3 separate regions of the Homo sapiens genome follow, and regions 1 and 2 are each linked to region 3. Evidence: fine-mapped expression QTL. A gene starts in region 3. Each other region holds a variant in brackets. All regions are shown on one strand. Distances are from middle to middle.

Region 1 (10,641 bases), 81 kb before region 3:
CAGTAATCCCAGCACTTTGGGAGGCTGAGGTGGGTGAATCACCTGAGGTCAGGAGTTTCAGACCAGCCTGGCCACCATGGTAAAACCCCGTCTCTACTAAAAATACAAAAATTAGCAGGGTATGGTGGCACGCACCTGTAGTCCCAGCTACTCGGGAGGCTGAGGCACAAGAATTGCTTGAACCTGGGAAGTGGCAGTTACAGTGAGCCAAGATCGTGCCATTGCACTCCAGCTTGAGTGACAGAGTGAGACCTCATCTAGAGAAAAATGTAAAAAAAGAGAGAGAGGGGAGGGTTCATAAACAGGACGCTTCCCAAGGTCACGTGGAAGGTTGTATAATGACTCGCAACCATTCCCCCGCCTCTTATGACACCACACAGCTGTAAGCCTTCCCACACTGTGAGCATGTGATGGGAAAGTGCTCATTCCCCAGCACCCCTGCCCCCAGGTATAAAGTTGGCATCTGGGAGCAGAAGTGCACCTGCTGTAAGCATATCAAGCCTTTGCCACCCTGTGAATGGCAAGCATTTTTTTCTGCCATCCTGCATATGGGGAAACACCACCAGGGACTAGGCATGATTTCCCCAAGATCATGCAACAAGCCAGTGCCAGGAAGCCAGAGGCTGCTCAGAACGGGCTGTTTCCCCAAGCACGGACATGCAGGGACACAACCACACCCATGATGTCTTGCAGCTGAGGCAGGCCTGCAAGCTGAACCAGCCTGCCCTTCCAGTCACTCCGTGCAGGCAGAAGCCCCCTTTTTAGAAAAATGGATGATGTTTATATCTCCTGATCTTGGGGACCTGGGGATTGGGAACAGCCCTTGGAGGCTTACCCAGGAAGCTCAATTACTGAGCTTCAACTGTTATTTCTGTGCCAAATCCCCCAGCAGAGCTACCAGCCTCTAGGTCTCAGGATGTTGGGGCACTGTGTGCATTTGAGAAGGCTCCAGACTTTCTCCCCTCAATGTGGTGTTTTCAGTCTTCACCTGGCCTGGACTGCCCAGGCATGCACGCTCTGCCGCCCTTACTCAGTCTCCTGGATCAGATACCCAGTGGGCCCTGGGCCCTGAACTCCTGTAGGGACCTGTGATGGGGCCGGAGGCCAACACAGATGAGATTGGCTCCATGGCACAGTGAGTTGGGTTCCTTCCTGTCTGACAACCATAGCTGTGTGCTGGTCTTAGCGCCCACCCCACTTACCCACGACTCCTACCACCCACCTCGATCTTGTTCAGATCCAAATGCAAACATATTCTCCACTGGTTTGGCATCCCATGTAAGCCTGACCTCACAGAGCTGAGCACATTGTGCAATAAAGCTCACAGATCAGGCAAGAATGTGCTGTCGCGAGCAGAGAGAAGGGCCTTCTTGCCTGTGCATGTGGGGAACTAGGGTCCTGTCCTGGCCCTGAGGCAACTGATTGAGAGCTCTGACCAAGGCCTCATAGTCCCTGTAGTAGGATAGTGTGGTCCCTAGAGTCCTTTCCTAGTGTGACTTCCTGTTCATTCAACAATGCAGCTCCATAGTGTCACTACCCACCTATGGGGCACTTATGCTATTAATACAATAGTATGCCAAGGGTCTTCCATGCTTCACCCAGTATTGATACCTATGAGTGCCTGATGAGCTGGGTACTATTATTACTTCCTTTTTTAATTTTTATTTTTATTTTAAGACAGAGTTTCACTCTTGTTGCCCAGACTGGAGTGCTATGGCGCAATCTCGGCTCACTGCAACCTCTGCCTCCCGGGTTCAAGCGATTCTCCTGTCTCAGCCTCCTGAGTAGCTGGGATTACAGGTGTCCACCACTATGCCCGGCTAATTTTTGCTATTTTTAGTAGAGATGGGGTTTCACCATGTTAGCCAAGCTGGTCTCAAACTCCTGACCCCAGGTGATCCGCCCTCCTAGGACTCTCAAAGTGCTGGGATTACAGGTGTGAGCCAGCACGCCCGGCCTATTACTTCCATTTTATAAGGAAGGAAGCAAAGATTCAGAGGGGTGAACTAATAAGCCAGAGAGTCAGGACTTGAAACCAGGCAGTCAGCCTCTAATTCCCACTCTGGGAAGCCTCAGGCTGTCCTGCCAGCAGACGGCCAGTGTGGTTTCCTGGGCAGGTCCCCTGCTAGCCAAAGCTTGCTCCATGCTCAGGGCCACCCTCCATTCTGCACTCCCAAGGCACTCCCAAATCCCACTCAGGCTCCTGTGGGGGTCCTCTCCCCATGCAAAGCCCCTCTTAGCTGTGTCACTTGGCAGCTGAGAATCTCTGTTCCAGCCAAATGCGGGGCCTGCGCTGGGCCAAGCTGTTTGCATTTTTCTCTATTCGGGAAAAGGGTGGCAGCTGAGCGAAGCCGGTTTTTTCCTTGTTGTTGTTGTTGTCTTTAATTCAACTGGCTAAGCCTAACCCTTATTAAACAAGAAGTGCTTTAAAAACAAAAACAAAATAAAGGCCCAGCTCCCAGAGCTTCTGAGGGAGTTGCTTTGTTCAGAGCAGCAGGATCCAGGGCTTCAGGGGAAAGAACAGGACTCAGCCAGTCACCCCAGCTCCCACAGCGCCCACCCCTGCAGGCACACGGCAATGGCGGCACCAGCCTGGCAAGCCTGGTACAGAGGGCAGAGGCCTGGCACCCAGGGTGAACAGGCTTGTGGGAGAGGGCTGGGGAGGGACAGAAAGGGAGAATGGAGGACAGGGGTGGGGCAGGAAGGAGCAGCAGAGGAGGAGTGTCTGACCTGCACTTGTCCTTTCTCTCGGCAGCAGCAGCGAGGAGAGCCCTAAGAAGGACACAGAGCCGGGGAGCAGCCCCTGTTCCCCTGAACTGCAGGGCGGCACCAGGCGTGCATCTCCCCCAGAGTTCTGTGTGCTGGGCCACGGGCTGCAACCGGAGCCTCGGACCGGCCACATCCAGGACAAATCCCAGCCAGAGGCGCAGCCCCAGCAAGAGGAGGTGTCCTGACAGGCTGACGAGGGGGCCACACTCACGCAGTCACCCCAGAAGGCCAAGTGTGACAGCCAAGTGTCCAGCCTGACCCAGAGATGATGGGCAAACCAAACTCCTACTGAGGTGTCCTGGAAAGGCCTGGAAGGTGCACTGCCCAGTGGGTCTGCTGAATTTTAAACAATCGCCGTTTTCAGTCCCAGATCTTGCTCTGCCTTGGGGTTCAAAGGTTAACCAGAACTTTTAGACCCCACAATGACAGTATTTAATGCTTCAAGTGCTGGCCTTAATTTGGGGTGGGGTGGGGGGTGGAGAATGTATAGTTGCATGCTTGATAGGGTTTTAACTGGGTTCATTCCTTGAGATCACTTAAGCCTCACAACAGTGAATGAAGCACATAGCATTCTTCAGTTTTGCGCATATGAAAACCGAAGGTGTGGGGAGAGGCCCCCTCAAGTGTCTGGCTGAAGGTCATACAGCTAAGAAGAGAATAGAGCAAAATTTTGCACAGATGAGTCTGGTGTTAGAATCTCTCTGCTCTTTTTATTACATTCCATTGCCCGTAACTATTGCGTCACTCCACCTGCCTAAAGCAGACATGGGTGCGCAAATGGTCGCAAAGCTTCTTTGTTGTAAGGTTAAGTAGCGGCACAGCATTGACAAAGTCCCTATTGAGAGCTTTGTTTAGAAGTGCATGGCTCCCAAAATGAGAAGGCTGAGTGAGCCAGGATTAAAACACACAGCCCCACCCGTCCTCTGTCCTCTCCTCCTTCCCAAGCTCAGTTTCAATGCTGTAAACTTAAAGCTGACAGCTCACAATACCAGCCACGCTGCCTCTCGGCCTAAGCATGTAGCAAATGCTCTCACTGCCCTACGCATTACATGCTTCTCGACGGAGTAGGGTAAACCAAGCCTCCCAAACAAGGCAGCCCATTCTCCACATGCCGTGGGTGCTGGAGCTCAGAAGATAGCGTGGGTGAGGCATACGTACTCACACGCCGATCTCCCCTCGGAGGCTTCTTGGCCAACTTTATTCCCAGGTCATCTTGCAGAACTTCTGCTGGAGTCGAAATCAAAGTGAAAAACAGTTGTTCATGCCAAAAACCTGCTTCTGCCAATGAGCTAGATATTTGCTGCAGATCTTGGAATGCTTCCACTGGAGGCTGTGGTGTGCGTTCTATTTAGAAAAGATTTTGCAGTAATTGAGTGATTCAATGCCGGCTCAATGGGTTGGCAAAAGACAAGAATTCTTACCCACTGGGGTACAGCAAAGGGACGATCCTCCAGATCTGCTGCAAAGCTGATTTTTAAAGTTTGGGGTAATTATAGACCTCAAACCCATTCTTGCTGGGACTGTGGGCTCAAAAACTTGTTAAACTGGGTCCCTA[G/A]GGACTATAGCAACCTCCCCCAGAGAGAGGCTATGACTCTGAGTAAATGAATCCCACCTTGACTTGTCCAATTATTATTCAAAGGCACCCAAAGAACAGCTGATTAAACTACCAAGAGGGGCCACAACCCACCCCTCTGCTGGAAAGGGACACACCCAGCTGTCTGCTCGCATTTGCTCCTGTTGCCGCCCTCATCTCAGAGAAGTGCTCAGGCAGTGCCCAGGCCAGCCGATTCTAGAGCCAAGCCACACCCACTGCTGGGTGGACACTTAGGAGCTGCCTGGACTGCAGGCAACGCAGGGAAGTCCAGCCACCCAGGCAGGGCAGGGGCCAAGGTAAGCACGTGAGGATGGACCAGGTTCAGCAAACTTGCCCGACAGAGATCTGGGCATTCTCCCTAAATGGTTGGGCAGACCAACCATTGGGTCACCATGGGGTGAGCCTTAGGTAAGCTGGGCACTGAGCTGAGTGAGCAGGAGACACACAGTGTGAGCGGCCTTTGAGGTCTAGCTCACAAGTAAGTGGCTTCAGGTGGGACTGCTCAGAAAGTGGGCCCTGCCTGGGCTCAGATTTAGGGGCAGGATTCCTGGAGGTCCGAGGAAACGAAGCTGTTCCCCAGCTGCAGGGAGACTGGAGTGGGACACAGTGGGTGAAACTGGGGTACCATGAGGGGTGGAACCCCAGGAATTATACACATTTTCATTACTGGAACCGGGATATGAAGTGGAGCCACTCCAGCAGTGAGGGGAAGCAAGGCTGAGTCTCCAGCCCAGGCCTCCTTCCGTAAAGGGCCTCATCTTAAAAGTCCAGGGCTGGGTAGAAAGTGGAAAGGGTGGCCGAGTGCCCCCTGCTGTGGCCATGCAAGCTAGCGGCAGCAGGGAGCCAGGCAGATTATTCCACCACAGAAGGGGTCAGTATCATGGAGAACACGCAGGAAGGGTCCGGAATGAACAACGGTGCTTTCCGTGAGCATGCATGGCAGGAGGCTGTCTGAGACTAGAGGTTGTCCCTCGCCAGGCTAGGCTGGCAAGCAGCAGGAAGTGCCCACCCACCATATTGCAGGCAGCAGACGAAGGGGTACAGGGCACCCGGGATCCTGCCATCAGCTGTGGAGATGCCCATGATGCCTCCTTGTCCCTCTGGAGGACCTCCACGTTTGCTTGGGGCCAACGTGTGCCAGGACAGGGCGAGGCTCCTGCCATAGGTCCCCACACACGATGTCATAAAAGCCCCCAGCTGCCACCAGACCCAGGCAGCCGGGACAGTGAGCTGGTGACACCATTGTGTTGCCCAGTAACCTTAGGCTACTGGAATTCCAAGTCAGCTTCCCCCACTCCAGGGAAGATGGGGAGGGGTTGCCAAGGTGCTGGGGGCTGGGGGTCAATTAGGTCAAAGGTGAAGCAGTGCTGAGCCGACATAGGAGCAGGCGGGTCAAAGATGTGTTTTTGGCTACCATACCAACTACCAGACTTAGCTCAAATTACATGTGAATTAGACTTTGTACAAAAGGAATTAAATCCACAATGGAACAGTTTTGTGGCATCTGGTCAGTTTTGCCTCCTAGAGACCAGGTCTTCCACAAACTTGAGTCTGCCTTGGAGCACGCATTGCTGGTGGCAGGAGGGGCAAACCCAGCTGTACAGCTTCTCAGACAAGGGCTGCTCACGCCCACCATCTCCCTTCTACCCAAGAATGGTATCCTTGCTGGGCCAAATCCACTTCCTTTGCCCAAGGGGGAAGGGAGGACAGTTTTTCTTTGTTCTGCTTTTTGTTTTAATAAAAATTATTAAGCCAATGAACCCAACTCATTGAAGACCCATGAGTCTATACTTTTTCTTCATAGAGTTAGAAACCAAGGACTGTCCGGGATGCAGAGAAGGAGGAACCCACCACAGATCAATCTAAGGGGTACATGTCATACCCATCTTCTCACTCGGGCCAGCTCCACTCTGGAGGAGCACAGCTTTCATCTTCCCGACCATGGAGACCCCAGAGCTGTGGAGAGGGAGGTACTGAGCCCAGCCCTTTACCCAACACTTTAGTGACACTGTAAACAGTTCCACCCCAGGGAAAAAAACAGAATTTTCTGCTCCCATCAAAAGGATTCATGGAGAAAAAAAAAAAAAGTAAACATCATATTCTGGCAGAACAGTGATAGCTTTTTGCAAGTATAAATACAATCTTCAAAATGAAATATAACCTCCCTCCGTGGCTGGGGTCTGAGCTGCTGTTTACTTTAAGCCGTATCTATTCTCCTTCCTCACATCGTATGCCCAGTTCAGAGCCTAAAATAATCCATGTTGTAGGAAACGCAGGGCAGACAGACCAAAGAGACTTTTCTTTCATTGTGAAGGGCCTAGGATTGACAAGACTTGCCTCATAAACCTTACAATGTGAATGAAAGGGATTTTGAGAAATATATTCTTTTTCTGAAATAAACCAGTGTTTTGCATGTATCAGGGGAGCCGCTGCAGTGAATTATAAGTGCTGACGTGTTTGTCAATTGATCGTCTGGCTGACGGCTTACAGGCTGCTAAAGCACCCACTCTATCTTTCAAAGGAAATCTTTTCAAAGGTAATATATTTTTAAGTAGCCCTACATCAAAGATTCAGTTGAACTGCCATAAAGTACATGTGTTCTGAGCCTGTATTAACAGAACATGTTATACTGCACCATCGTCTACTCCCCCTGCCTACCTGAAGTTTAACTAAAGCTCCATCAATCCATCCAGACGTTTTTATGAAATGTAATTAAAAATGCATCACACAAGAAGAGGAGCAAACAGTTAATTCACTCAGCACTCTAATTCAATTTTAGGAAGGACCCTGGACACTGCAGGCTTGATCGCACTCCTGGACTTCACAAAGTAACTTTGTGAATGGTCGGTGGGCCCTGCATCAGGTGGCTCTAGGATTCCACTGATCTAGTCACCCGCTTCTGAACGCTGTCACTGCAGACAGCCTTGAAGTCTAGCACACGAGGCAGCAATCGGTTTTGGCTGGAGTGATAGCACTGGCGGGGCTCAGTTAATGCCCATAGATAAAGCTGACTGGCCTAAATTGGAGGAAGAAGAAAAAGAGGAGGAAGAGAGCAGGAGGGGAAAGAAACAAGGGGTATGGTAAATGGGCCACGCATTCTCAGGAGCCAGAGGGTATCACGCTCCTGAGAGTTGGAATTAGAACACCAGAGCCTGAGTCATGACACCTCCATCCCCTGGCTCTGTGACCTGGCATCTCTGAGCCCGTGTCTTCATCTGCAAAGCAGTGATAATAATGTCAGCCTATTTATCCTGCCATCTGCACAACAGGGGCAAACCTGTCTTTTCTAAGGCATCTTTTTGAGCCACCTCGGGGAACGGAACTCATAATCCTGGCCATTTTGGTCTTTAGTGTTCATCTCTGCTGCCTCCGCACTTTAAGATCCCGATTGAGAAAAGAAGCCAATATCATTTCCCCCTCATTCCTGGGCTGCGCTTTGATCTTTGGAGAAACTTAAAAACAGCTGTCAAACTCAGCAAGAATTGACTTCCTTCTTTGAAGGTTTTCATGTCTTTCAAAGTGAAGAGAAAAGACTTTACAATATTTGCTTGCAATTGCAAGTACATATGTCAAATATACCACATGGAAAAAAACAAATTAAGCCTCTGAATCTCTCATCTTTCCCATGTTGAGTCATGAGGCTTGTCAGTCAGTCAGATAGATGACTGGCAATTACTCTGAACACTGCTAAACAGCAGGCTTTGCACACAGTGTGGGATGAGGCTCCAGTTAATAATTCTACCTTTCTTTGTATGTAACACTCTACTTTTTCAAAATGCAATCATGTACATTGTTTCATTAAATCTTTAGAGGAAAAAAGACGCTATGAGATGGACAAAGCAAGTGTTTTTTCAATACCTTTTACACATGAAAAAAAGATCTCACTCCAAAGATACATTGCCAGTGAGGGCAGAGCAGGCCTCTTACCCTGGCCAGCCTTCCTCCTGATACCTGCTGAAAGCAAGATCTAGATTATTCCATAGAGGCAGTACTGGAAGGAGACAGCATACCTTTCTATGGAAGAAATTCTCCATTTTCTCCAACATTTACAAATAGGAAATTATTTTTCTTTTTAAAGATACAGGGTCTCACTCAATGTCGCCCAGGCTGGAGTGAAGTGACACAATCATAGCTCACTGTAGCTCAGTGCAGCCTCGAACTCCTAAGCTCAAGTGATCCTCCCACCTCAGTCTCCTGATTAACTGGCACTGCAGGCATGCACCACCATTCCCAGCTACGATTTTTTATTTTTTTGTAGAGATGGGGTCTTGCTCTGTTGCCCAGACTGGTCTCAAACTCCTAGACTCAAGCAATCCTCCCACCTCAGCCTCCCAAAGTGCTGGGTTTACGGGTGTGAGCTGCCACACCTAGCCCAGGACATTACTTTTCATATCTAATCAAAGTTCAGCTGAAATTCTAGCCATTCCTCAAACTAGCTTGGATGAAAACTCAAAACAATGTTTCCAAGAGTTTTTAAAATAATTCCCTCTATGAACCTCAACCACTCCCATCATTTTCCACACACACACACACACACACACACACACACACACACACACACACACAACTGCTGCTAGCATTAAGAGAAAAAGAAAAGTCTTTTCCAAAAATCTTTGCTTCTCATTGCCATGAACCCTGAAGTGGGCTTCCAGATGAAAATTGGCAGGAGCAGACGTGGCCTCCTTCTTGAGACAGCTCTTTATTGCCAGTGCCCCACAGCGGCAAAAACCAGTGGATGAGACAGAAAATAATATAGACCCTGGGAAACAAATTGCCTTCATGAAAATTATTTATCTAGCAATTTTTTTTCCTCCTTTGGAAGGGGACAGTATTGGCTATGTTTACAAAACCTGGTGACATTTTAGAGCGATTATTTAGTTAACGGCTTCTGACTTCAGCTGCAGAAGTGCCGCATCACTTTAAGGATGTAAAAATTCTCAAGGAGAACCCAAGGTGATGTTAATAACAGCTGTCAACTCACAGCGAGGTAATTATAAAGATGTGATTAAAATAAAGCAAAGCCTTCAAATGTTACAGCCAGCTTCACTGAAACACCAGGGGACGGAATATGGCGAAACCAGCACGCCCCCTGAATAAACCCCAGTAATCATAAGGACCAAACCTGAGCCCCCAAGAGGTCCCTGACTCAGAAACACCCACCAGGGAGCATCTGTGCACACAGTGATGCTGCCGTGCTGTCTGGAACCCGGCTGGGAGCAGGCAGTTAGGACGCTGCTTCCCAGGCTTCCTGATCCTCAGAATCAGCTGCTTGATAATTTGCAGATTCCCAGGCCTTCCCCCCAGTAACAGATCTACAGCTGAGACTAAGAGTCTGAGTTTTTAAAAAGCACTTGTTCCCGTCTCTCTCTCCCCGTTCTCCTCCCGCAAGCAATTCTTTTCATCAACCACATTTGGTAAAGACTGATTTAGGGATGCTGACTCCCAGGTGTGGGCTAGCCTGGGAACCTAATAACCACTGAAAGCTTTGAGATTGTGACAGAGGTTCTCAACTTTGAGTGATCAAGGCTCTGATTCGGTAGGTCTGCAGTACAACCCAGGGATCTGTACTTTAACAAGCACCGTGGGTGATACTGTAACAAGCAAGCCACAGTCCACACTTCGTGCCTACAGCGTCCCCAGGCCAACAGCTTCCAATCAGGGCATACCTGAAGTCTCCCCTTTTTCCACTATGAAGCTGCAGCATTACCTCTGCTTGCATATGAGTCTCTGCCAAAACTCAGGTCGTCATGGCAGGCTCCCTTGCTATAGCAAGCTCTGAATAGGCTACACTTTGCTCATGTAGCCTTCATTTGTGTCCACAAATCCCGTCCCCACCAGAGGCCAAGTGTTCACAGCATGTCCTAATGATCAGAGCTGACCAAGCAGACCCTCTCTGCCCTGAAGCTTTTGGGAGCAAAACTCTGGGACCAGACTAACTCCAGAAATCCATGGGGTTTCCGTGGCTTATTTCAAAGGGCTCAAACTGACCCAAGGGGAGGTAAATGTCTTGGAGCCATAAAACATCCTGGAACAGAAAGTCAGGGGCTTTGGAGTCAAACAGGCCTGGACACACACCCAAGTTTCAGCCACTTTCTTGCTGTCTTAGGACCTGACGCCTCAAAGTGTGGTCCCTGCCAGACTCACAGGATTGACCTCACCTGGGAATTGAACACTACAGACTCTCAGGCCCCACCCAGACCTGCTGAAGCAGAATCTGAACTTTACCAAGATTCCCAGGTGATTCCTGTGCACTGGCTGCGGTTATTCATTAAGCATCG
Region 2 (10,641 bases), 45 kb before region 3:
GGAGACTTATTAGGAGGCCACCATAATAGTCCAGGAAAAAGATGGTGCAGGCCTGAAATCAGGCAGTACAGTGAGGATAAGGAAGCACAGTCAGATCCAAGAGCTGCTGAGAAGATGGAAACCACAGGATTTGGTAGCTGGTGGGAAGTGAAGCAGGAAGCATCTAAAATCTTAAATCATATTTCATTCAAACTTAAGACTCCATTAATTGTAAAAGGTGCCCTTACTTTATTTTCCACTAAGGAAAATCAGAAAAATAAAAACTGGTGATTTCCATAGCCTCCAATGACACTGCCCCATGTGTGAGGGCAATCTTTCTATGTGCTATCTCAGAAACAGAAGATAGCATTGCTTGTCGGTATTTTTCTTCCTTAGGTCAGGTAAAGTTCTTAGTGATTGCTTTGCAAAAAATGTGGGACTTGGTCATTCCTTCCACAGTGAGAGTTTGCTTCATTGATATCTAATGGATATCCACTGACGTTGCCATGCCTTTTCTCATATACAATAATTATTCATTTCAATTGCAAATAATAGTGTAATATTTCTAAGAAACTTTAAACAGATTAAACTCAATGATTCTCCAGAGAGCATCCAAAAATCACTTCTGAAAATAAATTTAAAAATTTACAAAGAAAGGCTCATAGTGTAGTTCCTACAATGGAAAATTTAATTCAGAAAATAATACTCTGAGCAACACTGACTAAGTTTGTGAAGGTGCAGATAGTATAACTACATCATAAACTGGGCACAGTGGTGCACACCTATTGTCTCAGCTATTTGGGAGGCTGAGTCAGGAGGATTACATGAGCCCAGGAGTTCAAGGCTGTAGTGTGCAATGATCACACCTGTGAATAGCCACTGCACTCCAACCTGGGCAACATAGCAAGACCCCATCTCTTAAAACTACAAAAACACCTATGTCCTAATCACTGCCTAGCCCAACTGAAGCCCAACAGCAACTGTGAAATGCCTGTCATTGTAAGATACATGCCAATTTTAAAAATATTAAAACCAGGGAAGGATGTGTGTCTTGAAATCAATGAAGTATGGGAGTCCCCATTGTGCCTCTTGGGTGGCTCAGTAAATAACAGTCACTTTTAATGATAGAGAGAACACAGAGAGGCAGACTTGGAGAGGAGGCAATGAGTTCATTTAGGGACACTCAGCACTGCAGATGGCAGTAGGACATCAGATGGTGGGTCCCATGGAGGCTTTAGAAATGGGGACTGATGCTCGAAGAAGGGTCTGGAGTGGAGGGCAAGAATTGAGAAGCCTCCAACTTTGCTGGTGGCTGGAGCCACCAGAAGTAAAAGCCAGGAGAGGGAGATGAGGACTAAAGACACCTTGGCAGCACCTACACTCAGGTGGCAGTCAGGGGCAGAATGGTCACAGAGGGACAAGGAGAATCCCCGGAGTACAGTGCCATGGAAACCAGGAAGGACAGAGTTCTAGGAAGGAAAAGGAAATGTAGTCACCATCATCTAGTGTAAGGGATGGGTCAGAATGGAGAGGAGTAGCAGATCTGGAGAGACTTTAGACCTTGATTTCCATCCCTCTAACAACCATTTAAAACCAACAAGCAAACCAAAACCTTCTACGTCCTTTTTTTTTTCGTTGCATGGCAGAGTTACACAACACTTTATTATATAGTAGATGCTCTAGTAGATGCTACACAAAGAATAGCTGTTTATAGACATTTCATCCCATTCTTCCAGTCCCCCTAAACTCACTCTTCAAAGTATTTGCTCCAAGTTTAATGGCTATGTGATTTGTGATTTTTTTATTTATTTATTTTTTTGAGACAGGGTCTCACCCTGTTGCCCAGGCGGGAGTGTAATGGCCCTATTTCAGCTCACCGCAACCAGTGCCTCCTGGCCTCAAGCGATCCTCTTATCTCAGCCTCTCAAGTAGCTGGGACCACAGGCACGTGCTACCATGCCCGGCTAATATTTTGGTATTTTTTGTAGAGACAGGATTTCACTGTGTTGCCCAGGCTGATCTCAAACTCCTGGGCTTAAGAGATCCACCTGCCTTGGGTTCCCAAAGTGCTGGAATTACAGATGTGAGCCACTGCACCCAGCCAGGCAATGTTTTGTTTGCCTGTTTTTGTTTTAATTTTTTATTTCCATAGGTCATTGGGGAACAGGTGGTGGTTGGTTCCATGAGTAAGTTCTTTAGTAGTGATTCGTGAGATTTTGGTGCACCCATCACCCGAGCAGTATACATTGAACCCTATTTGCAGCCTTTCATCCCTCACCCCCTTGCCACTAGTTCCTCCTGAGTCCCTAAAGTCCATTATGTCATTCTTTTTTTTTTTTTAGACAGAGCCTTGTTCTGTCGCCCAGGCTGGAGTGCAGTGGCGCGATCTCGGTTCACTGCAAGCTCCGCCTCCCGGGTTCACGCCATTCTCCTGCCTCAGCCTCCTGAGTAGCTGGGACTACAGGCACCCGCCACCACACCTGGCTAATTTTTTGTATTTTTAGTAGAGACGGGGTTTCACCGTATTAGCCAGGATGGTCTCGATCTCCTGACCTTGTGATCTGCCAGCCTCGGCCTCCCAAAGTGCTGGGATTACAGGCGTGAGCCACCGCACCCGGCCCATTATGTCATTCTTATGCCCTTGCATCCTCATAGCTTAGCTCCCACTTATGAGTGACAACATACGATGTTTGGTTTTCCATTCCTGAGTTATTTCACTTAGAGTAATAGTCTCCAATCTCATCCAGGTCACTGCAAATGCCATTAATTCATTCCTATTTATGACTAAGTATTCCAGTGTGTGTGTGTGTGTGTGTGTGTGTGTGTGTGTATACACACATACATACATACATATCACAGTTTCTTTAGCCACTCGTTGATTGATGATGAGGCATTTGGGCTGTTTTCGCATTTTTGCAGCTGAGAATTGTGCTGCTATAAACATGCGTGAACAAGTATCTTTTTCATATGATGATACCCAATGGATACCCAGTAGTGGGATTGCAGGATCGAATGGTAGTTCTACCTTTACTTCTTTAAGGAATCTCCACACTGTTTTCCACAGTGGCTGTGCTAGTTTGCATTCCCACCAGCAGTGTAGAAGTGTTCCCTTTCACCACATCCACGCCAACATCTATTATTTTTTGGTTTTTTGATTATGGCCATTCTTGCAGGAGTAAGCAAAACCTTCCACTTCTCCACTGATATTCCTCATTTCAGCAAATGGCACTATTATTCACCATTGTTCAGGGTAAAAACTTAAGAGCATCTTCAGTTCGTCTTTGAAACCCTTACCACCTGCATCCTGTTGGCTCTGCCATCCTGTTGGCTGTTGGCCGAAGCCACCCACCACTCTCCAGTCTGAGCCTCCAGCCCCTCTTGCCTGGACTGTGGGGCAGCCATCATCTGCTGTTCCTCCTGCCTTTCTCTCTCACTACCAGTCCTGCGGCAGCCAGAGAGGCTTTTTTTTTTAATTATAAAGGCTAACACGCATGTAAAGAAACACTCAAACTCATTATTAATAAGCAGGGGGTCAAAGCACTCTAAAACAATGATGAGCTATCATTTTTACCCATTAGATGGATAAAAATTAGAAATCTAGAAATTGCCACATGCTGAGAGGCTGTGCAGGAGGGAGGCAGATGTGGACCCCAGGCAGGGCGGGGCTGCTGGAGCACACACATGCATCTGACCCACGGTCCTGCTCCTGGGCACGTCCGAGGAGGTGCCATGCAGCACAGTTTGCAGCAGGGGAGAATGGGAGGAACCGCAGGCACTACATCCCTCAGGGAGCACCCTCAGACGTGGGTACCCTACGAGAATGTCTGGCCTGGAGCTCACCCATCCAGGGTGGGCATGGCCTCTGGAGCCCTGACAGGTGCCACATGGTCTCCAGTTGGGGCGAGGATGGAGTGAGGGGTGGAGACCTACACACTCATCCAAATGGATGTGGTAGTAATAAGCCCTGAACTGAGGAGTGTGAGGAACTGGGCTCCAGCCCTAGCTTTTGAAGACAGTCAACCAGATCCTCTCGCTCTCCTGCTTAAAATCCTCCAACACCTCCTCATACTCCCACTAAGAAAACACTCCAATGACTTCCAATCACACACCATCCAAAATCCCAACTCCTGACCTTGGCCTAGGAGAACGTCTCTGACCTGGGCCTGCTGCCCACCCTCACCCCCACCCCTCACTCACTGTGCTCCACCAGGCTGGCCGTCCCCACCCTTGGACACCAAGCTTGTTCCCATCCAGTGGCCTCTGTGACATTTGCTTTGCCTGATCCTCAAAGAGCTGGCTCCGTGTAGCCGTTCAGCTCTCAACTCAAATGTCACTCTTAAAAAAGGTTCTCTGAACCCTCAGTCTAAAGCAGCCCCCCCACCAACTCCATTGCATTGCAGCCTTTACCTCCTGGGCTCAAGAGATCCTCCCACCTCAGCCCCTCAGTAGCTGGGACTACAAGTGTGCAACACCACCCCTAGCATTTTTTTTTTTTTTAAGTAGAGACAGGATCTTACTATGTTGCCCAGTCTCAACTCCTGGCCTCAAGCAATCCTCCTGCCTTGGCCTCCCAAAGTGCTGGGATTACAGGTATGAACAACCACATCCGGCCTATTTTTTCTTTATATCCCTGATATGTATCTAAAATTACCATAATTATTTATTTATTATCTGTCTCCCTCGACTAGGAAGTAAGCTCCAATACAATAGGGACTTCATTTTTCTTATTCACTGCTGTGTCCTTAATAAGAAAAAGAGTGATCATTAAATATCTCCAGAAAAAAAGGCCTGAATGTTCTTACAGAGAATGGTGCTGCGGTGAGGTAGAAACAAGAGCAACACTCAATGGGTAAGAGGGGAAATGGAAGACCAGAAAGTGGAGGCAGGGAGTAAGGACCCCTCCCTGAATGGGCTTGGCTTGATGGAAGGGATGGGACAAGAGCTGAAAGGAAAGGACATAGCTTCCGCCTACCTGCCTGTCCCTCTGCAGGATCCCAGGGAAGCTGAAGCTGTGTGCCCCAGGCCCCTCAGGGCTGGCTGGTTGGTTGCCTTCTCTGCCCCCAGGCCCCTGGCCCTGCCCTACCTGGTGTCCTGGTTGGAGTCCTGTGCCAGCCTCACCAGGTTGTGCACCAACATGTCTGTGCTGTCTCTGGTGCCCGAGAGAAGCTTCTCAGCGCCGATCTGCTCCAGCACAGCTGAGAGGTGCTCAGCCGCGTATTTCCGGATCAAGGGGTTCCGGTGGCTGAAAGGAAATCATGGCCCAGGGGTCAGTCTCAGGATAGTGGTGTGGGAGTCCCCAGGCTGGCAAACATGGATCTACCATTGCAGACCCATGCTTCATGCCAGCCAGGGGCTCCAAAAATACCTGTCCCCATGTGAGCTGAGGGGAATCTTTGAGGAAAGAGCACTCACTTTCTACGAACAGGGTGACAGCAACAACGGGAGAGGGAAGGAAAGTGACATGAAGCTACACGAGGTTCC[C/G]CAATACACCGTATGCATACCGTTCTTGGGAGCTTCCTGCACACACATCCTTCCTTTTGTCTAAGTACTCTTCTCCATCTTCCCTCCACCTAGAAAAGTCCTACCTAACCAGTGTCTCTTCTTCCTTCTTTCCCCAGCCCCACAGGCAGAATTAGACATCCCACCCACTGCCCAAGGTAGCGCTGTCTTTGTCCCCGGGGAAGTACAGTTGCACCCTTAGGGCCCCCATCAGGCTGCCAGCTCCCTGTGGGCGGGGACCAGGTTATCTGTCTCCCTTGACTAGGAAGTAACTCCAAAACAACAGGGGCTTCATTTTTCTTTTTCACTGCTGTATCCATAATGACGAAAAGAGTGATCATTAAGTATCTCCAGAAAAAAAAGGCCTGAATGTACAGAGAACAGTACTGGGGTGAGGCAGAAACAAGAGCAACACTCGATGGGCAGAGGGGAAATGGAAGGCAAGAAAGTGGAGGCAGGGAGTAAGGACTCCTTGCTGAATGGGCTTGGCTTGACGGAAGGGATGGGACTAGAGCTGAAGGACATAGCTTTCATCCACCTGCCTGTCCCTCTGCAGAATCCCAGGGAAGCTGAGCTGCATGTTCCAGGCCCCTCGGGGCTGGCTGGTTGCCTTCTCCGCCCCAGGCCCCTGGTGCTTCCCTACCTAGTGTCCTGGCTGGAGTCCTGATTCCCTCTCTGTGGCAACCCCACTGCCCTGCTGTGCCTGACACATCCCTGGTGCTTGGCAGGAGCTTAATGCATGTTTGCTGAACTGAACTGAGACAGGAGGGAGAAGAGGGATTCATGGGTGAGTTGGTGACCATAACAAGTGGAACCTGAGCTCTATAAGAGAAACCTGTCAGAATGGCACCTCTTTCTAAGGGCCTCTGTGTCCACACTCCATCAGGAAGCACTGACCCTTTTGTCCCCTAGAGTCTCACCCCAGTGGAACACAGTGGGGGACATCAGAACTCTCCCTACTCAGCATGGTCCATGGACCAGCAGCACTGACATCTGAACCAGAATCTGCATTTCAGCAAGATCCCAGCGGACTCAGATGCACAAGCCATGACCCTGGTTCTTGTTGACAGTGATCAATTGCCTGTCCCTCCATGCCAGCACCTTTTATCCATTATCTCACATCTACCTCATTAGCTACTATTATCATCACTATTCTGCAGGTGAGGAAGCTGAGCCAAAGGGAGGCATCCAGAAAAAAAAAATACAATTCATTTCTCCTAAGTTAATTATAGACACAGTAAGCACTCAGTGAATGTCAGGAATGGGCAGGCACCTTTCTAAGTGCGCTTTCGTGAGTCAATTCAATTACCTCTCATAACAACCTCATGAGGTAGACACCATTATTATCTCCATTTTACAGATGAGTCAACTGAGACACAGAGAAGTGAAGTGACAATCAGGATGTGAACCCAGGCAATGTGGCTGGGCAGGATCTCACCCTTTGCAGTATGCTATGGTGCAATTACTAAAGGTCTCCCAGCTGGTCCAACAGGCCCCTGGGGCTACTGAGAAACCTCACGCATCAGTGTAATGATCCACTTATGGGGTGGAGAGGCCTTTTGCTGTGCGGGAGAAGCAGCTTGGGAAATGCTTTTGGTTTTGCTTTTAGTGTGGGTGTTTAATGACAGGGAAAACAAATCTGCAGAAAGGCTCCAACAGGAACCCAATACCTTCCCCTCCCCAGGAGCAGGTCCAGTGGGGCAAGCTGGAGAATGAAATTTTGCGACTTTCTCTTCTCACTGGCCCACATTTCATCAGAAAGCAACACTGCTCCTGGGGGTGACAGGAGCTCCAGGGCCCATGCTCAGGCTGCCTCTGCAGCCCTGTCTCCCGGGGCGCTCCCACAGCCACGGTGTGCTCCCCAGCCTTGGAGTGCAACGGCCCCCTCCTCTTCCAGCCAGAGGTCCCTGCATTCCCCCGGCCTGGCCGATGAAAGGTTGGGAGAGAAGCCGGATGCCCGGCACAGGGAAGCAGGGGTCTTCCTCCCCCAGCTAAGTGGGAAGCACCTGCTGTGAAGTCTGAGATGGGCCCCTTCTTCACTCAGAACCTCTGACCCATCACCCTGTCCTCTAGCATCTCAAGGGACCCCCTGCAGCCTCACTTGCCTGCTTCCCTCCCTCCCTCCCTGCACCCTTCCCTCCTTCTTTCACATCCCAGGGCCTCTCCCCTTGCCTTACCTTCCCTGACTTCCCCGCCCCTCAGACAACAGGCAGCCACATACTAGACACCCGCCGAGGTGAGGACCACCAGGGAGCGGGCAAGGGTCACATTCTCCACCATAGCCCTCAGAGACTGGCCGGCTGCTCTCTGGATGAACTCGTTGGTGTCCGCCATCTTCTGCAGCAAGCAGCGGGCGATCTCCTCGGCCTCCTGGTCCATATTCTTCTTCAAGGCCTGGAAGAGGTCTCCCAAGGTGCTGATGGCCAGGTGAGACACCTTGGACCGCAGGTTGGTGACCTTGGAGAGAGGAGAGAGGCCCTCCAGGGTGCTGGACCCTGCCAAGGGCTCTGGGACGCATGGAAAATGGGCCCTGCACCACCCTCTTCCTCCACCCCCACCCTTCCCCTGACCTAGGCCTTGCCACGCTGGAAACAAAAACCCTGCAGCCACTCTGAGCAAAACTGTCCCATTTTGTTATCATCTCAATTATTAATCCCATCATTATCATGACCATAGGAAATGTGTACACTCTGTCTTCAAAGCACTTTTACAAAGAATGTCTGATTTGATCTTTGCAACTACCAAGTGAGAAATAGGTACCATGAGAAGCACAGTAGTGCTGACTGAGGCTCTAATTAACCTGGGAGAATGTAACTGTATTTTTTCTGGATGCCTCACTTTGCAGAGGAAACAGAGACCCCAGGCCACATGCAGGAAGGCAGATGCTCCCCACACAGCCCAGGCCCCTGTGTTAACAAAACAGCGTCCTCCGTATTCATCCCCACCCCACCCCCACTGGAGCAGCCCACTCCCAAGGGCAGGGCACAGCCTCCACATGAGAACAAATGTAGCCTCCTGCCTCTCTGGACCCAGCTAGACCAAGCCACAGAGCCATGAAAGAAACGCTTTGGGAAATACTACCACTGCCCTGGAGTTGGGGATCTGGCCCTGGACGCTCCATCCCTCCTTAGGCATTTTGAGTACAGAGGACCATGCAGGCCGACACATGGGCATGTGGGATTCTAATTGTTTCCATTCTCAAAGATTACAAATAAGGAAACCCTAGGCCTCAGTTTTCCAATCTGAGAAATGGGTGGCTACCTCCTACCTCAGTGGCTGAAGGCTGAGAAATAAGCAGGGATCCCCATGTCCCTGAAGCCACAGCCCCTCCACAGCTGCTAGCGGACTGCATCCAGCAGCTGCAGTGGGGCCAAATGCACAGCACACAGGCTGGGGGGCCTCACCTCCCCAGTCACCACCAAGCACACGTCGTGCAGCTTCCCGGTGAGGACCTCTGAGTGACAGGCTGCCAAGCGCTGGATGCTCACCAGACCCTTCTCCTTCATCTGCCTGAGAAGCAAGGCCAGGCCCTGTTGCAGAAGGGTGGAGAGGGAGGAGCCCCACCCCTCTGCAGACTAGGGGCCCCACATCACACACCATCACGGTCCACCGTCACCCGCAGCAGGGTGCCATTCCATGGCCTCAGAGCAGGGTTTCCCGGGGTAACACCCTGGCCTGGAATCCTAACCACTCAGTAAAAGCCAGTTTTATGTGGCCTCTGGCCAGCCCTCAGCTCTGACAGTGCTGTATGGAAGCCCACCCCCCTCCAGGACCTGTCTGGGTCCTTGACACAAAGCCAACACCTTCAATAAAAGGCACTTGAACAGGGAGGACTGAAGGCAGGGAGGGCTTCTCACAAATGTTCTGGAGGCCGAGGCATTGCTTTGCTCATGACTACGGTCCTGCATCCCCACAGTGGGAGGAGCGCTCGGAGCAGATTCAATTTCATTCAGAGAAATAAAGGGCTGCGGCCTTCCTGGGCCCCATGGTGTGGAATCAAATGCATCCTTGCCATGCCTGGCTTTGGTACACCACAGAGCCATGCATAGGCTGCTTGGAGGGTCGCAGGGCACACACATAAAGCCAGGAACACCACACACTCATGCACACACGCACATAAACACACATATCTATATGCATGCACAGTCCTCCCTCCAAACTGGCTTTTATGCTCCATGGTGCTGGAACCCCAGAGTGGGAGAGGAGGGAAGTTGAGGGGCAGAAGCTATTCTGCAACAGCCCCTGCTTCCGGCCAGAACACAGCACGTGGTGGAAGCATCTCCTCACCAGTCACTGCTGTTGAGGCACTGGAGTGCATCCCTCAGCCCCAGCTCCGGGTTCGAGAAAGGCCTCAACTCCTTACAGGCTCTAAGATCCATCTCCTCCTCTTCTTCCCATTCAGGAGACCCCAACGTGAGCACCGCAGGTAATGAGTTAGCTGCATTCACAAGAAAGAAACAGCAGGCTTCACGCAGCAGGACAGGCAAGAGCCCGAGTGGCCGCTCCTGCCACCGCTCACCATGGGAGGCCGTGCCACCACCCTGAGCCCACCTAACAGGGAGGGTGTACAAGTGGAAGTGCCTGGTGAGGCTAAGAACCCAGCGCCTGGGCCTCCCTCCCCAGGAGCCATGAAGACCTCCTAACTCTACCTTTGGCTGACTTTTCCCCTTCCTGCCCTTGCCAATGCGATTCTTATAAACAGATTTGTGATAAGCCACATGATGTCATGGGACTAAACCCCCCAGTCAGGGGGACACCTCCAAACCTGCCCCATCTGTGGTGGGGTGGGGCCCCCTGAGCCATCAATGAATGATCTCCCTACTCACTTTGGTGGCGGTCTAACCTCATTCCCAACCAGAGGCCTGTATGGTCAGCGCCTCTTCCTTCCCTCTTGCTATCCAGCCTTTTGTGAGGTTGCCCACAAGCAGGGAAGAGTCCAAGAGCAGATGGCTAGAGGAAGACAATGTAGCTAACTGGCACCCACACAGTCCAGATGCAGCCACACACACAGGGACCCACAACAAACAGGTTGTCGTGTTTTCTAGGCTCTCCTTCCCAGGAGACAGATGCTGAAATCATAAACTCCTAGGACAGGAAGGAGTCTTACAGGGCCTCTGTCTAGCCAAATGCCCTGATCACACAGTTGAGGTCCCAGAGGCCCAG
Region 3 (10,641 bases):
GGACACTTACAACAGGGGTCAAGTAGCACGTTGCTGGGAAGAACCTTTCTTAACAGAACAGTCTGTTCAGGAGGCAGTTCACACCTGAATCTAATGACCTCCCAGGACAGGGCAGAGGAAGTGGTCAGAAACCCAAAGCAGCACTTCCCAACTGTTTTATGCCCAACGCAGCCGAGGAATGTGGCCATCCATTTGTAATAGCAGCTCAGTGTGGGTATCTCGGGTTGGGGGTGGATGGGCCGCAGCATTTAAAACATCCCCCCTCCACAACCCCAGGAAATTCTGATGTGAGAATTAACAGTCTAAAAGACATAGGAAAGCCTAGGGGGAGAGAAAGTTTTATTTAGGCTGTTTTTGAAAAACAATGAGATAAGTGACAAGCAGGGCTGCCATGTTTGATTGTCTAGGTTGGGCACTGCACGAGGGCATCCTAATTAAGGAGACATCTCTCACACTACATCTTTTTTTTTTTTTTTTTTGAGACACAGTTTCACTCTGTCGGCCAGGCTGGAGGTCAGTGTCATGATCTCAGCTCACTGCAACCTCCACCTCCCAGGTTCAAGCAACTCTCCTGCCTCAGCCTTGCAAGTAGCTGGGATTACAGGCATGTGCCACCATGCCCAGCTAGTTATTTTTTTGTGTGTATTATTAGTAGTGACGGGGTTTTGCCATGTTGGCCAGGCTGGTCTCGAACTCCTGACCTCAAGTGATCCACCCACCTCAGCCTCCCAAAATGCTGGGATTACAGGCATAAGCCTCACACTACATCTTCTCCAAAGTCCTGGCAATGTTGTTTTAGACGATGACTGTACATATTTGTACATTCATTTCAGTCTTTTTCTGATGAATAGAAGAAAAGTGTCTTGAGAAAGAGACATCTTTTTCTAATTCACAAAGGAACCATATGAGTGGGCTGTGGTCCTAGTAACAAAGCGTATGTAACTTATACACAAATTTACAAAATTCAAAATCTTCTGAACCTGCCCCCACCTTTGTGTATCGTGTTGGTGCAAATATAAATTAGAGATTAATCAGAACTTGGTCTAGTAATTTAACAGAATTTCCCATGCCTTTCTTCTGTTACTAAATTTCAAGCTGGAAGGGGCCTTGGAGGTCAGCTAGTTTCCTCCCTTGTAAATGAGGGGTTAATGAGCCGAGATCACACCATTGCACTCCAGCCTGGGCAACAAGAGCAAAACTCCGACTTAAAACAAAAACAAAAACAAAACAAAAAAATGAAAAGCAAAACAAAAAAAAAACCCCAGCAATTTAGTTCTGGAGGCTGGGAAGTCCAAGATCAAGGTGCCAGCTGATTCCACTCCTGGTGAGGACTCACTTCCTGGATTGCAGGTAGCTGTCTTCCCTTTGTCCTCACATGGCAGAGAGAGAGACAGAGAGCAAGCTCTCTGGTCTCTTCTTCTAAGGGCACTAACCCATCATGAGACAACCACCCTCACGACCTCATCTGAATCTAATTACCTCCCGAAGGCCCCACCTCCTAATACCAACACATGGGGGGTTAGGCTTTAACATTTGCATTTGTGGGACGCATGCATTCAGTCTATAACACCTACATAAGGCCATCAGGAGCCAATACCTATCCCAGGGCCCATACCCCTATAGGCATCACACTGGCTGCCAGCTGGCAAGGCCTTCAGCAGGACTGGGAGGAAAGCTTCCTTTTCCAGCTTCCCATCAAGGCCTCCCCAAAATGGTCACCTTGCCACTACAGTGCCTGGTCAGAGCCTGTGTAGTGTGCTCCCAAGGATTAAGGTTTTGGGAGGGGTAGGATACCACCGCATCAATCCTGCCTGAAATCACACAGCCATTGGCTGGGGCTTGGAAGTCTTCTGCTGGCCCTGAGATTTCCACCATCAAGGTAAGAGTTATCCTAGCACTTGATCATAGTCCTGGAGTCTCGAATGAAAAATGGCTTGGTCCACTGCCCCAGGAATGCCTTCTGCAGGGTTTGGCTGATCAGTTGAGGATTCCTGCCCAGTAGCAGGAGCTTGAATCTTCAAACTGTAGACTGTAAACAAGCACATGTACTCAGAGGATCAGAAGGGACTAGGAAGCAAGAAAGCATCTTGTCCAAAGTCTCAGCAAAGGTGTATTGGCATGACTCTAGCATCTGAATGTCTGTCACACCCCAGGAAAGGGCTCTTGGCAAAGGCCTCCCTGCAAGAAGCTCAGAAGACTTCAGACCCCGGCCCTGTCCCTTCCCAATGGCCCATGAGAAAGCCGACTTTCTTGAATAGGAGCCAGAGTTTTGTGTGTGCCTCTCCAGGACATACACCAGGTTTTGCCTGGGAAATATAAATGGCTTCTGTGGAGGGACATTTTTTTTTCTGTCTTTGTTTTGTTGAAGAGAAATCCAAGACCCAGGAAGGGATGTGAGTTGGGCCAAGAACCAGAGGTTTTAAAACACGAAATGGGAAACTCAGACTTCCAGACAGTGGCTCTGGAGCCTGGGTCTGTAATTCAAACACTAAGAAGTATGTGGAATAGTGATTGGTTCTCCAAGAAGAAGAATGGAGGAGAGGGATGGAGGAGTGGGGAGGGCAGAGAGAAAAATGGGGCTCAAAAGCCTGAGCACCATGAGGGGCTGAGATCACAGAGAGCAGAGGAAGGGAGGCACCCAACAGAGGAGGAAAGAGGTGAGGAAGAATGGCTGGGGGCAGATGCTCAACCCCCTGGTAATCAAGAAAATGCAAATGAGATGCTACCACCATCCCACAAAGATGGGCAAAAATTGAGATGGGCGGCAATGCCAAGTGCTAGTGAGAGCACAGAGCAATGGGAGCACTCATGACAGCTGGCAGGTGAGATGCAAATGGGCACAAACCCTTGGGAAAGTGGTCTGGCTTTACCTGATAAAGCTAAAAATGCACAAACCTAATGTTCAGCAATTCCACTCCTAGGAACCCACCCTTGAGAAAGTCTTGCACAGGTGATCCAGGAAAGGAGCTCGAGAGTGTCCAGAGCAGTGCCATGGATAATGGCCAAAATCTGGAAAAAATCTAAATGTCCAACAGGAAAATGAAGGACTAAATCATGGTGCACTCACAACATAGAATATTACAGAGCAATGAAACAAACGACTGCCCCACTCAACACTATGGACGATGCCACAGCGTAATGTTTAGTGAAAGAAGACAGACCCAAGAGACCACACAGGGTATGCCCCTACTTCTATAAAGTTCAAAGAAAGACAAAATTACATCGAGTGTTTAGAAATGCATACATAGGCCCAGCGTGGTGGCTCACACCTGTGATCCCAGCACTTTGGGAGGCCAAGGCAGGCATATCACCTGAGCCAGGAATTCGAGACCAGGCTGAGCAACATGGAAAAAACCCATCTCTACAAAAAAAAAAAAAAAAAAAAAAAAAAAATATATATATATATATATATATTTATATATACACACACACAAAGATTAGCCGGGCATGGTGGTGTGCACCTGTACACCCAGCTACTTGGGAAGCTGAGGTGGGAGGAACACTTGAGCCTAGGAGGCAGAGGTTGCAGTGAGCTGAGATCATGCCACTGTACTCCCACCTGGGGGACAGAGTGAAACCTTGTCTCAAAAAATGAAGCGAAATTAAATTAAAATAAAAATGCAGACATAGATGGAAAACTTGATAGAAAATCAAGGAAAAATTAGTAGCATGATTAACCCTAAGGGGAAGGGAGGCAGCTGTGATAAGGACAGGGCCCACGGGGGTGGGTTCTGGGAGGCGGCCAGTTTTTCTGTTTCTTGGCCTGGGAGGTGGCTACATGGACATTCACTTTATAATTATTCCTCACACTGCATGCATTTTATGCATTCTTCTGTCTGCAATAATAAACTTCCAGCCTCTGTGCTAGTGAGCAGAGTCTGGTGCCTCTGAGGTAGCCGTGGGGTCAATGGGAGGATGCGCTGCCCTCAGAGGCAGGTCTCTCCAGAGCTCAGGTTGACATCTCCCCATCCCTTGCCCCCAACTACCTCCCCCTTTCTTCAAATCTGTTAGTCTCAGGCTCCATGGGCTGAAACTGAGCCAGTCCTGGGAGCCAGCCTGTGGCTAGAAGGCTGCAGGGCCGTCTCCTGCAGGGCATTGGTGAGAAGAGCGAGGGACTGCCCAGTTCAGGATAGAAGCGATTATGGGCCCCTCACACCACTTCCTGGGGCCAGGCACCAATGCCCTGTGGCCTGCCTCAGTGATGCTCCGACAGAGTACGGGCCCCAGTCCCTCCCCTCCCAGCGCTCCTGAGGAAATGGCAGCCCTCTGAGGTCCCCCGCCAGCACCAGCCCTTGTCCTGGAGAAGTGACTGGCAAAACCTTAGTTTCAGGAGACTGAAATGTGCTCCAGAAAGGAACATGCCAATCTCCACCTAACAACAGCATCAACAACAAACAGTAACTTCCATTCTGCGCATGGGCTAACGTGCCAGCTGCCCTCCTGACTGTCTCCATGCTCACAGACAGCACCAAGGGGGCTTTTTTTAAACCCTTCTTCACAGATGAGAAACCTGAGGCTCAGAGAGGCAAAGAGCTCAAGTCCACACAGCCAGAAAGAGGGGGGGTTAGAATTCAAACCCAGAGCAGAGCCCCTCCAAGGCCTATGCTCTCACGGGGTGCCCCAGCACCCCTAAGCACGGGTGCCATCCCCACAGCATGCCCCCACCCTTCCCGGCACCATCGCCCACAGCACCCCAGGGAGCTGTTGCCCTGTGAAGGGTTCACCCTGAGGTAGAGAGCACTGCCCACAGAGGCCATGACTCGGGGAAGGGGTCAGCCCAGGCCAGCCCCTCCTTCCTTGGCTCCCAGTGCTCAGAGAACAGTGAGTCCAACCTCCTCCCCTAGAGCTGCCACATGAAGGCCCAGAAAGGGTCAGAGACATCCCCACGGTCACACAGCCTCCAAGTCACAGCAGGATGCTTTTTCTTTCTCTGTGTGTTTGTGCTTGCTCCAGTTCAGGTCTTTATCCCTCCCTCCAGGGACTTCAGGGGTCCTGACCCAGCCTCCCATTCACCACCTACAATAGATGGCTTGGTGGACCTATCGTCTCTCACCTCTCTGTCCAGAGGCCAAACCCCTGTCACTGGAGGAATCCAGGGTCCTTGGTCTCTATAGAGACGTTGATGCTCATGGGCCCAGGGAGGCAAGGACGGGGCAGCCCCAGGCCTGGCCCACCCTGGCCCCCACCAGCCACACAGTCCTGGGCCGCAGCCTCCTGTCTGAGCAGGGGCTGGGTGGCCACGAGCTCCACTGCTGGCGTGCTCCAGCTCTCAGCAAAGCTCTCCTTGAATAAACAAGGCTGCATAGCAACCACTCGCTGAAGGAGCCCATAGCTCCCTGCGCGGGGGAGAGACCGAGCCGAGAGATTTTCCCCTTGGTCTCATTGCCTCTGTGGCTCACCGGAGCACAGGCACTACCAAGTGGCCGACCTGTCCTCTAGGGTCATGGACACCACAGAAAGAGAGAGCACTGGGCCCCCCTGCCTGGTGACTGCAGCCAGGAAGTGCATAGCTGGCTTGGTGCAGGGATGTTGTTGGTAGAACTCCTGGTTTTGCTCACATGGCCTCTGGGCTCAATCTGCTTCTGTTTACTAACTCTCCTAGAGGCAGAAAGACAGAGTGAGCATCCAGGCCTTGGCAGCAGGCAGCTGGGTTTGAATCCTGATCCTGCTACTTCCAGCTGTGTGCCCTCTGGTCAGAACTTTACCTTTCTTGACCTCAGTTTCCTCATCTATAAAATGGGTACACCAATAGTACTGACTTGATAGGGTTGCTGTAAGGATTTCAAAGGTGCATGTAACAGCTTGTAATTTTGTCTAGCACTTGGTAGGCTCTCCATCACTTCCCCAGAAATCCTTGCAGAGCAGAAAGCCTGTGGCCTTCGTCCCAACCAGATTTCTCCACCTTAACTTTTGGAAAATGTGAATCCTAGCAGCCCATGTGTACTTTCTCACTGAACCCAGGCTCTTGGGCGGAAATCCCAGGCTGGCATCCTCTCTCTGGAATGACAGCCAGTCCCACTCCTCATGCTACCCCCTTCTAGCCCTCACCATCCAGGGGGCACACAGTGGAAGCCAAGGACTCAATTTGTATGCAGGCTTGCAAACAGCCACTCGCCCAAAGATACTATGAATTTTCCCAGGCAGCTCCTCCCCATATTCTGTACAAAGGAATCAGCAGGTGTGTGGAACACACAGGGATGGCTGGTGGGAGGCCAACTACACCCCACGAGGCCTGGGCTGCTGAAATGCTTGCACACGGGGTAGCTCCTTCCTGGGACTCTCTCCTCTTCCCTGAGATGGCCAGGGAGGGCAGGCCTTGGGAGTAGCTGCTGTCATTTACCAAGATCCAGGAGGGAGCAAGGAGGGCCAGCCAATTATGACTGAGAACAAGGTCCCTCTGGGGCAGGTGCTGGCCCCAAGCCAGAGGTCACAGCTGACAAGGCGAACGGAACTCCTGAACTCCCTGTAGCAGAGGCCCAGAAAGGAGACTCTTCCTCCAAACCAGGAACAGTGGCTGTGCGGATTCCCCTTGGGAGACAGGTATGAAGATGCCCAGGTGGGGAAAGAGAGGCCTGGCAAGTTAAGCCCTTGCCCCAAGCCACACAGCTTGTGAGTGAGAGCGACTCAACCATGGGAACCCAGGGCGGGGACGTGACAAGGCAGGTTTTGGTGTCCCTCAGCTCTGGCAGGGAGATGGTGTGTGTGCAGCTCCCCCAAAGCCCATCTGCATGTCGCTGCTTGAGTCGGAGCTTCTAGAACACAGATCCGATGGCCGTGCCCTGCTGGACACCCCTCATGGCCCCTGCTGTCCTTGGTGTAAGGGCCAGACTTAGCACCATGGCTGCCAAGCCCCTCTAATCAGGCCCCACTGCATCCTCCTTCAGCTCCTGGGCTCTCCACACTCTGCCTCCACTGGATGGCCGAGCATTATGTGTTCCCAAGGTGGGCTGGCCATGCTCTGTGCCAAATGCTAGAGACACAGGAGGCAGCACAGCCTGCCCTCAGGAGCTGAGTGATGGAGAGAGGCCCCAGCAGGTAACCCCCTGCTTGTTCCTGTGTTACCTGCAATAAGGGAGGATGGATAACACAGCACAGCCCTTAAGAACCAGGGCTCTGAAGCCCCTGGATTCCAGACTGGATTCTGATCCCAGCAATGACATCTTAGGCAAGAAACAAACTCTCTGAGTCTTGGTTCTTTCATATGCCTAGCAGGAAGACTGCAGATCCTCCCTCCCTGGGGTGGCTCCAGTGACCCTCAGTGTGCCCGCCAGGCACAGAGCACGCACTCACCCTCACTGTGACCATGGACAGAGAGCGAATCCCAGGGGCAGTGAGGTGTGACATCCACATGAAATCCCCGAGGTAAGGAGCAGGCCAGTCGAGGAGCATGGGTGGAAACCGCTGAGGCAAACACAACCTGAGCCCCGGGCCTCTGGGGGAGCCAGGAGCTGCCTGGAAGGATTGGGGCACTCCAGGTGGGGAGGGCAGCCAGGCTGCCACCTGGAAGCTCTCTGGAACTCCCCTGAAGAGACCTCAGAAAGAAAGGGACACGAATCCAGCCCTCAGTCATTTGTTGTGACTTCTTTTCTCATTCTAAAAAAATATTTTCATACTTAATTTTGTTTTCTTTCTTAAAGAAGCCCCCAAATTGTTTAAGCCTCGAGTCTCACAAAGCCTGTATCGACCCCTGGTGGAAGGGCGGCCAGACCCTCGGAAGAGGGTCAACAGCTATGAAGGAAACCAGATGTCACCTGTCTCCTCCAGTGCCCAGTGTTCCCAGTCATTGCCCCGACTCTCCTGGGTGTGCTCACACTGGCCTGCTCCCACCCCCAGAACCGATGAACAAATACTTGATGTGAATGAATTAAACTGACTCACAATACAGAATCACAAGCTGGGAAGAGGGCTCTTGAAAGTACCAAATAAGTAGCCCCCTCCACATCCACAGGGGATAGCCCCCATCTACCCCAGAAATCTACTCAAGATTTCAGAAACCAACATTCTATAACTTTCCATGCTGATGGATTTGGTCAGTGGAAGACTACTAAATTCTGATCCTGTTCCCTCAGTAAAAATGTCACCAAGAGTCCTCTTGGCCCTTGTTGATTTGTAAAGTGAACAAAGCTGTTTCTATGTCTAGCAACAAGAAGGACTAGATACCCTGAACACACTTCCCATTGCAAATGACCTGAGCATCCTATATCCAAATAGTCTCCTGAACACGTAGCTGGGCTATTAGCAGGGACTTCACTGAGGGGTCTTCTCCCCTTGCTCTGGGATGTAGCTGTCATGCTCCTCTCCTCTCCTGGCCTTTGTTCATGCTGTTCCCTCCACCCCAAAAGCCTTTCCCATATCCCTTCCTACCCCTTACTTATACCCATCTCCGGCCGGGCACGGTGGCTCACGCCTGTCATCCCAGCACTTTAGGAGGCCAAAGCAGGCAGATCACCTGAGGCCAGGGGTTCGAGACCAGCCTGGGCAACATGGTAAAACCCCGTCTCTACCAAAAATACAAAAATTAGCTGGGCATGGTGGCGCATGCCTGTAATCTCAGCTACTCAGGAGGCTGAGACAGGAGAATTGCTTGAGCCCAGGAGGCAGAAGTTGCAATGAGTCGAGATTGTGCCACTGCACTCCAGCCTGGATGACAGAATGAGACTCCATCTCAAAACAAAAACAACCAAAAAAAAAACACTTTATACCTATCTCCCTTGGCCAATTCCCACCCACGTGCTCCCAAGGGGAGTCCTTACTGACTCTCTAGAAAAGAGGTGCCTCTCATCTGCCTTTCTAGGGCCAGCACTTCCCTATCACAGCACCACTCATCCGCTGACTGTAACTGCCCGCCCCTCTCCTGGCCCACCAGCCAGCCACACAGACCTAGACTGTGAGCTCCTTGGGGGCAGGATTCATGCCTTATATCTCTGGAACCAGCGCCAGCCAGGTTCCACATGGGTGTTGAGAGAGCGACACCAACCTGACTGCACGTGGGGAGAGGAAGTGGCTGGCGGCATAAGAAGCCCCCGCCCCTGCAACATTCACCGCTTCTTCCAGGACCAGACCTGAGATCCAAGCTGCAGACCAGAGTCTCAGCCCCATACATTGTATGGCAGGGAACAGGTAGGGGGAGTTCTGACCCCCTGGGCTGGTGTTGCCCCCTTATAAACCAGGACCATCCCAGGCCTAGCTGGAGGTCAGATCCCAGGGAGCATGGGGAGCAAGGGCCCCTGGTAGGGACCCTAGGAGGTGGTATGCTCAGGCGCCTCCCCCATCTCTGTCTCAGGTACCCATCCCTCAGGATAAGGTGCCCCCAGGCTAAAGATGGTTAGCATAGGGCATGGCCAAGGGTTCCAGGCAAGTGGACAGAGAGTTGGTTCCAGTCCTGACTTTGTCACCATTACTGTGTGCCCTCCAACAAGTCCCTGCCCTCCTTGGGCTTCCAAACTGTCATTTGTGATCAGACACTGGGTGACCTCCTGGTCCCTTAGAGCCCTGATGCCCTGTGTCCTGGGCCCTGGCCCAGGCTGAGGAGAAAGGCTGGAAGCCCCCCATCCCTTCACAGGCCACGCCCCCCCAGGTAGAAAAGCGGATAATGGAGGCAAGCTGGCACTGCCTCCAGACTGACACTGTGCTGGCTTATCTCCCAAAATACCACTGCCCCACCCCCTCCAAGGCCAGCCCCAGCCTGGAGAGCCTGAAAGGCCCTGTCAGTACCACAGGCTGGGTGGGGGTGCTCAGACACTGCCAAGGACACAGAACAGGCCCCTCCCAACCAGCACCTGCCACTGGGCTGACGTGTTCCCTGGGAAGTTCCTGGGAAACTCTAGAATAATGTATGCAACCTAAGCACAGGATCAGAGAGAGGACTAGGCCAAGCCCCTCTTATCGCAGATGATGGAGTCACACAGGAATTCAGTGGTAATGACAGGATGGGGACTAACGCCTTCTGGTTATGCTGCTTCTGGCCCCAGCTGCCCTTCAGGGCTTCTCCCAACAGAAGCCAACCCCTCATCTCACATGGGGTGTGCCTCTCCCTCCTTTCTCCCCATTCCACAAAAGGACGTGTCAGAGAAGAGCAGCTCCCTGCCCCACAGCCACAGGAAAGCTCGAGAGATGGAGGGCAGGGGGAGGGGAGGAGTTAATAGGTGAGTAAATAACTCCAGAAGCTAATGGCAAAAAAGAATTTGATGGGTTTTTGTTGTTGTTGTTGTTGTTGTTTTTGAGATGGAGTCTCACTCTGTCGCCCAGGCTGGAGTGCAGTGGTGTGATCTCAGCTCACTGCAAGCTCCGCCTTCCAGGTTCACGCCATTCTCCTGCCTCAGCCTCCTGAGTAGCTGGGACTACAGGCACCCGCCACCACGTCCGGCTAATTATTTTGTATTTTTAGTAGAGACGGGGTTTCACCATGTTAGCCAGGATGGTCTCGATCTCCTGACCTCGTGATCCATCCACCTCGGCCTCCCAAAGTGCTGGGATTACAGGCGTGAGCCGCCACACCTGGCCCAGAATTTGATATGTTTTTATAAGAACATGCAAAGAAATAGGAAAATGTGTAAAATGCTCCTAAACTTCCACTTTGTAAAAATTAAGCATATGTTTCACATACTTATAATATGTACATATTCCTGTACATATATTGTC

Which allele goes with the higher level. Alleles are on the strand shown, and positions count from the first base shown. SD is a standard deviation of normalised expression in the study named. Not every link is listed here.
With allele A in place of G in region 1, the expression in cerebellar hemisphere of the gene that starts at base 5,294 in region 3 is lower (small effect, 0.26 SD a copy in GTEx).

What was found. PIP is the estimated chance that this variant, and not a neighbour inherited with it, causes the effect.
Region 1: its variant is the best candidate, but not a certain one, in a credible set for the expression of TOGARAM2 in cerebellar hemisphere (GTEx, PIP 0.55).
Region 2: its variant is the best candidate, but not a certain one, in a credible set for the expression of TOGARAM2 in whole blood (INTERVAL, PIP 0.87).

What each region holds. Positions count from the first base shown.
Region 1 is chr2:29,057,182-29,067,822 of GRCh38, reverse strand. PCARE (photoreceptor cilium actin regulator) reads left to right here. Exons shown (of 2, transcript NM_001029883.3): 2 at 2,756-6,128. The coding sequence ends at 2,954. Among named protein-coding and RNA genes, the nearest start is that of PCARE, 12 kb to the left of the region's middle. RefSeq lists enhancers at 210-710, 2,012-2,694, 4,038-4,952. The variant G/A (reference allele first, on the strand shown) is at 4,325.
Region 2 is chr2:29,021,433-29,032,073 of GRCh38, reverse strand. It overlaps TOGARAM2 (TOG array regulator of axonemal microtubules 2), which reads right to left. Exons shown (of 20, transcript NM_199280.4): 11 at 9,766-9,916; 12 at 8,883-8,988; 13 at 7,700-7,935; 14 at 5,063-5,221. Among named protein-coding and RNA genes, the nearest start is that of TOGARAM2, 45 kb to the right of the region's middle. RefSeq lists an enhancer at 7,846-8,347. The variant C/G (reference allele first, on the strand shown) is at 5,461.
Region 3 is chr2:28,975,951-28,986,591 of GRCh38, reverse strand. TOGARAM2 (TOG array regulator of axonemal microtubules 2) reads right to left here and starts at 5,294. Exons shown (of 20, transcript NM_199280.4): 1 at 5,054-5,294.